Linked DNA regions of Homo sapiens. The protein of the gene in region 2 interacts with the protein of the main gene of each other region in a pairwise test. Each region holds a gene or a part of one and is shown on either strand. Other genes may lie near its edges.

What was found.
Region 1: the proteins of NCK1 (region 2) and WIPF1 interact in binary tests that used the Homo sapiens proteins (3 or more experiments, as listed by UniProt).

Annotation. Positions count from the first base shown.
Region 1 is NC_000002.12:174,587,805-174,591,304, reverse strand, and holds part of WIPF1 (WAS/WASL-interacting protein family member 1), read left to right. Parts: intron 1-3,500. UniProt on the Homo sapiens protein: Plays a role in the reorganization of the actin cytoskeleton. Contributes with NCK1 and GRB2 in the recruitment and activation of WASL.
Region 2 is NC_000003.12:136,921,208-136,924,707, forward strand, and holds part of NCK1 (SH2/SH3 adapter protein NCK1), read left to right. Parts: intron 1-3,500. UniProt on the Homo sapiens protein: Adapter protein which associates with tyrosine-phosphorylated growth factor receptors, such as KDR and PDGFRB, or their cellular substrates. Maintains low levels of EIF2S1 phosphorylation by promoting its dephosphorylation by PP1.

The DNA of each region.
Region 1 (3,500 bases), on a different chromosome or scaffold from region 2:
GCTAGGACTGCCATAATAAAATACCACAGCCTGGGTAGATCAAATAACAGAAATTTGTTTTCTCCCAGCTCTGGAAGCTGGAAGTCCAAGATCAAGATGTGGGCAGGTTTGGTGTGTTCTGAAGCCTCTTTCCTTGGTTTGCCACCTTCTCACTGCGTCTTCACTTGAAGACTTTCCTCTGTGTGAGCACATGCCTGATGTCTCTTCCTCTTTGTATGAGGACACCAGTCAAATTGGATTAAGATCTCACCCAATGGCCTCATTTTAGCTTAATCACCTCTTTAAAGACCCTATCTCCAAATACAGTTGCCTTCTGAGGTCCTGAGGGTCAGGAATTCAGCATATCACTTTTGCAGGGGACATAGTTCAGACCGTAATACTGTATGTGAAAACAAAAGCCTTTTCTGTCCCTTGAGTTTTCTTTGTGTTTGTAGAAGTCAACACACCAAGTAAAGATTTTAGAAAGTCTGGCTTTTCTATCATGAAAGTTACTTAACATTGAAATTATTCTTAAAAAGAAATTAATTCTGAAAAGTGTGACTTCTTAAAAGTTCATTGCTTGGGTTGGGGTGGGGTAGGAGGGCAAGGCCCAGCAAGTGGGTAGGCATGTGATCCGACACTACTGAGAGCCCAACTAGTCTGGGAAGCCGGACACAGGCACAGCAGATTCTGATGCAGGAGATGACTGACCACACTGGGAAACTGCTGCTGAGTCCCTTCCCTTCTTGCGTCTCTCCTGCACCCGAATCAGCTGCCTTTCCTGCCATGCTCCCATCTCCAAGGGAAGAACCAAATGCTGGGAGGCCCAGTCATCAGTCAGCCTCATTCCCACCCAGGCAGATCCACCCACAGCCACTGAGCAAAGCTGTGGCCCCTCAGACTAGCCTCCAGGTCCATCCCTCCTCTGCCAGGCACTCAGCAGCTTGTACCAGCAGGACCCATCCTCACCCTCTGAAGGACAGAGCTAAGCCCTGTCCACTGACAGCTTTGCTCCCCCAGGCCATGCTGAAAGCCTTGCACACACCATTTCATTTAATCTGCTCAGCAACTTCCCATTTAACAGATGGGAAAAACAAATTCCCATCTGAATCTGCCAGGTGGCAGAGCAAGGATTCAGAACCAAATTTGCCTGACCAAGGTCTCATGTTCTCCCTTTTTCATTCTATAAACCCACTGGTAAAGCCCAAAGGACTCCTTTTTTTAAAAAATTTAATTTTAATTTGTTTTTATTTTATTTTATTTTATTTTTAGAGATAAAGGGCTCACTTTGTAGCCCAAGCTAGTCTTAAACTCCTGGGCTCAAGCAGTCCTCCCACCTTGACCACCCAAAGTGTTGGGATTATAGGCATAAGTCACCACTCCCAGTCCCAAAGGGACCCTTTTGTGTCTACGTTTAAATGCATAAAATAAAATACAGAGAATTACAAAGGAAACTAATTTATTAAAATATGTACTTCTTTATTAATGGTTTAAACAACAAGATCTAGCAATGGATCTAAACGTTGCCAGCATGTTGAAAATTGTTGGTGTGTAGTTGTAATATGATGTGAAATATCACGTGAAAACTATGGGTGAAAGAATATCAGATATTATGGTTTGTGGCCTGCATTCATAATCAAAGGAAATGCTACATTTCAGTTAGTGCTTAGTAGAAATAATATGTACTTTTTTTTCATACAAGTTCATGAACCCTTGAATTCTATCCACAGACTCTGGGTGTGAGGATCCAGGCAGGAATGCCTGGTCTGTTAGGATCCGTGCTCTAGGGCCAAGGCCTTCAGTAAGATCTGGCTGTGGCTCTGATGTGGGCTGTCAAGTCCATGAGAGGAGGGAAGCCCTCCTCTCCCAGGGCCTTGGGGCTCTACTTCTCTGGGGAAGTTGGAGGCTGCCAGGAAAGTAAGTTCCAGTCTGCAACACTAGCAAGCCCCTCTGAAATAGGGCTGATTCTTTTGCCCAGATCTCACAGTGCGGTGGGGTGATGCTGGGAGCCCTTCAAGTGGCAAGCACTCGGCTTGTTTGTGTGATACACAGTTCTTTCACTGCATATATATTTAGTAAGAACCCTACTTTGTGCCAGGTATTGGCAAGACCCCATGGAGTCCATAGGCTGGTGGAAAGACAGCCAAGAAGTGGGCCTGGTGTGGCCGGTGGGCCCAGTGTTGGGGCACACGAGCTTGGTCTTTGATCCAGGGGCTGAGTGAGGTGGCAGTATTGGAGTCTGGGGTTTCTCACACACTTCCCTTGAGGCCCCAGCCTGGAGAAGTCCAGACCGTGCCCAGCAGTTGTTCAGCTAGAAGGGAGGAGAGAGGACATGGCAGCCTCCCTCATCTGTGTTACCATTGAGATTGGAAAGGGACAGTTAATCTGGAGGGGAGTGAGAGATGGGGCCAGGGAAAGCAAGCCATGCAAACAAGTTCGCAGAGGAAGAGAGGAAAGAGCACTTAGTTCTGCATCACCCTCTAAAAAGTGAGAGCCCTCACCCGTAGACCCTCTCCCCACTGTCCATCTGAAGTGGCCAGGAAGGAAAGGCAGCACTTCTTTCAATACCTCAGACCCTTTAATAGCATCTTGCTCCCTGAACCTTGTTTTTGCCTGCTAATTTCTGCAATCTGGCCTTGGCTCTGGCCCCAGCCATGACTGTTGCCATTTCTCCCACACTAGCCCTCTGGACCATGAAGTTAACACGCCCTCCCTGGAGCTGTCATCCAGAAGTTAATATACAAGTCAGTTAGTGCACAGACAGTACTAAAACAGCAGCAACAGAGAATTGTAAAATAATTAAGGAGGCCTTTCAGGGTGGCAGCCCCTGAAAGGGTCCCCATTCCACAGTCTGCCCCCTAAGCTGTGCAGGACAGAAGTTCAATTTGATCTCTGTTACGAGAGCCGAACTCATGACAACCATACCCATAAGAGGTTCCTGTTAGTTGACCAGAATATCCACCCTTTCCTAGATATTAGGATCACAGAATGACAGAAAGTTAATCGGTGAACGTGGAGTCAGACAAAATAGTCTTGAGGGATTTTTCATCAACCAAGCACGTGGATGCACTGTTCCCACAGCCCATCTCTTGGGCCCACCGGGCAGACCAGGCTATCCCCCTTCCTTGGTAAGCCTTTCCCAACTCTGATCATACCATTGATTTGGCTCCAGCATCTTTCGCAGTAGTCAGGCCTGAATCAGATCCCTTTCGTTCCTGCTGGTCCTAGGAGACGTCTGACTCCAAGGCCTCTGAATGTGCCGCTGGAGATGCCCCTTGATGGAGGACCCCCTAACACAGGCACCCAGTCCTGCTCACAATGCCCATGTGGCCCTATGGGTGACTAATTGATGTCATGCCAGAAAGAGCAATTTAAGAAACAGACTTTAAAAGAATCCTTGCCTGAGACAGTCTCTTACTGAAAACAGATTCCAGCCTAGTTAACAGGTGAGCTGTGGCACTAATTCGCCTGCCTGAAAGTGTTTATCAGACCATTAAAAGGGCAGTGAGTGAGTGAGGCAG
Region 2 (3,500 bases):
ACTCCCCTGTATATAGATAGCCAAACTACCAGTCATGTATGAGAGAACAAAATCACTTTCAGATATGCATTCTAAAAAATTTAATTCCAATATATTTTTAACTCAGGAAACAACTAGAGGACGTGCTCCAGCAAAATGAAGGGTAAAGCAAGAAAAAGTAAGACATAGGATCTAGGAAGCGGAGGAACTGTGGGCAGTAGTTCCAATATTGGTTTCATTTTCTAAACTTTTGCTGTGGTATTTGCATCTTTGCTTTATGCAGGGATGTGTGGGGCTTGAGTGGTGTTTATATTGTACTTCATTTCTTAGTGCCTTTGTGATGCTTCTTTGGATATTCTATGCATGTCCAATTTGGGAGAGCCCAGTACTTGTGTTGGTCCATAACTAGAATTATAGATGTCGAAGATAAACTGGACACTAGTTAAAATGGTAAGGACAGATTTTATTCAGTAACTATTGCAGTAGGGAAGAGTGTCCAGTGTGAACTCAACTCACTTTTGCCAAAACAAAAGGGGAAGAGACTTTTTTAAAGGTTGAGTATGCTAAGGGAAAGACACTGCTAAGGGAAAGAAAGATGGTTTTTTTGTTTTGTTTTGAGACGGAGTCTGTCTCTGTCACCAGGCTGGAGTGCAGTGGCGTGATCTCAGCTCACTGCAGTCTCCGCCTCCCAGACTCAAGCAATTCCCCTGCCTCAGTCTCCTGAGTAGCTGGGACTACAGGCACGCACCACCACGCCCAGCTAATTTTATTGTATTTTAGTAGAGACGGGGTTTCACCATGTTGGCCAGGATGGTCTTAGTTTCCTGACCTCGTGATCTGCCTGCCTCGGCCTCCCAAAGTGCTGGGATTACAGGCGTGAGCCACCGCGCCCGGCCACTGAGTGGTTTTTAAGGGCAATAGGTGGTCCATGTGAGTAGGCCATCTGGGTTTGTTATTGGCATTTATCTGGAAGAGAAACAAACTTATTATTTATGACAGGAGGTGGTGGTACAAATTAGGCCCACCAATGTTTGGCCCTTACCCTCTCGCCAGGGACTGGGAACAAAAGTGAAAGTTATCTTTTTGATTGTTTGCATTCCAAAGAGGTAGTTCTCAGGTCCTTGGGAAGATAGTTCTTGATGGTAGAAGATTTAAGTCACAAAGGGACAGAGAAAGGATTTATAATTTCAAGCTTTCTAAGGTAACTGCTCTAAATGGGGGTTCAGGTGACCATCTGCCTATCACCAGGTTTTGGCTGGAACAAACGGTAAATTCTGGCCATGTGGAGCCTTTTCAGGTAAGGAACTTGATGGAGTTGGAGTCATTATTCTAGGATATGGGGAAAAGATATGAACAAGCACTTTACACAGAAAAACAAATGTAAATGTCCCTTAAATATGGGAAAAGAAATCACTGTAATAAGAGAAATACAAATTACAACTCTGAAATACTATTTCTCCCCTATTAGATTGGCAAAAATCCAAAAGATTGACAACATAGTTTGTTGGCAAGGCTGTGGGGAAATAATCACTGATATATTGTTAGGAGTTTTTAAAAATAGTTTATGAATACAGAATTTAGCAGTATCTCACAAAATTATACAAACTTTAGCTGTAACTCAGCATTCTTCTATGATTCTAACCCAAAGGTACACTAACAGAAAATCAAAATGACACATGTATGAGGCTGTTCATTGCAGCACTATTTAATCCCAGAAAATTACAAACAACCCATTGACCATCAGTAAGGTCTAGTTGAAGAAAGTGCTACTTACATAATGATGACGCACTCTGCAATTGTTAGAAGTAGTAGATGTATTAGTAAAGGAAGTCTCATGTGCTGCTGTGGAATGATCTTAAGGATAGATTGTTAAACTGAAAATGAAAAGATTCAGGCAATATAGTCTATGCCTATGTGTATGTGTGTGTGTGTGTGCGCGCCTGTGTGCATGTGTGTGTGTATGTTTTGTTGTGGGGGTAGATAAAAATTAGAATTTTCAATTTTCTTATATATTTTTCTTGAATACTTTCCTTAAATTATTTAAAAAAAAATAGAAACATAAACCAAAACAAATAAATAGCTGTCCAGGCCGGGCGCGGTGGCTCACGCCTGTAATCCCAGCACTTTGGGAGGCCGAGGCAGGCGGATCACGAGGTCAGGAGATCGAAACCATCCTGGCTAACACAGTGAAACCCCGTCTCCACTAAAAATACAAAAAAATTAGCCGGGCATGGTGGCGGGCACCTGTAGTCCCGGCTACTCGGAGGCTGAGGCAGGAGAATGCCATGAACCTGGGAGGCGGAGGTTGCAGTGAGCCAGGGTCGCTCCACTGCACTCCAGCCTGGGTGACAGTGCAGTGCGAGACTCCGTCTCAAATAAATAAATAAATAAATAAATAAATAAATAAATGGCTGTCCAGTGGGGTGGATGGGAGAGGGGAGAGAAAAGAGAAGGTATGGAAGAAGACCTCTCTAAATGTTTTAAATATGTTTGATATTTAAGCATATTTAATGTTTAAACATTCATATAAACAATATTAAACATAATGTTCAAACATGTTTGATATTTAAACATCTACCTTGCTTGATAGTTTAGCTTTTAGAACCATCCAAATGTTTTACATAATTATGAAACAATTACATTTTAAAAAGGGAAAATAAAGTGATCTTCAAAAAATGAAAACAAGTGAGCCTAACTCTACGTCCAGTTGGTGTCATAACCACACAGAAGTATATATTCTACCTTTTCTGTAAGGTTTTATGTTTTAGGGTAATAGAACAATAAGCAAAATTTTCCTTTGAGAATAATCACAGTTTCTGAAAGCAGGTAGAGCTAGCACATCATCATTATTGAAATAGTTGATCTAGGCAGTGATCATCAGTGGCAGGTAAAACCATTGGGTAGAGGTTTGATGGGGGAACTTTATAATAATGGATAAATCAGTTCAGTGCTACAAATCTACCATTCAGTCTTAACATCACAGAAAATGGTTCAGGCAGACATAATGTGCCTCCTAATAAATGGCAATAACAAGTACACAAGAATACTTAACGAATTATTCTTGCAACAATGACAAAACAACCTAGAAAAAGTAAAGCCTCTAGAAATAATTACCAGTTTATAGGAGATAGGGGGGATAGAGGAACACCATGAAAATATACACTAGCCAAATTCACGATGTGGGAAATGCTACAGGACAAGTGAAGCCAGCTTCTTAAATAAATGACATAGAGTGGGGAAAGAGAACAGTGTCAGAGACTTAAAACATGTTAGCTTAAGTGCAATATATCGACTTAGTTTGGATCCCAGTTCACACCAACTGTAAGAATGTTTAAAAAAATACACTTAGCAAAAATTGAATATTAGCATTAGATGAAATAAGTGTTGCAGGAGTTCTTAATAAAGGAACACCTTTTCAAAATGAGCTTTTGAAAATATACTGATAATTTAATTTTAGTATAATTGACTTGTTTGCAATCTTATATATTTTTATGCATCAGAAACATTGTGAGTAGAGGTTC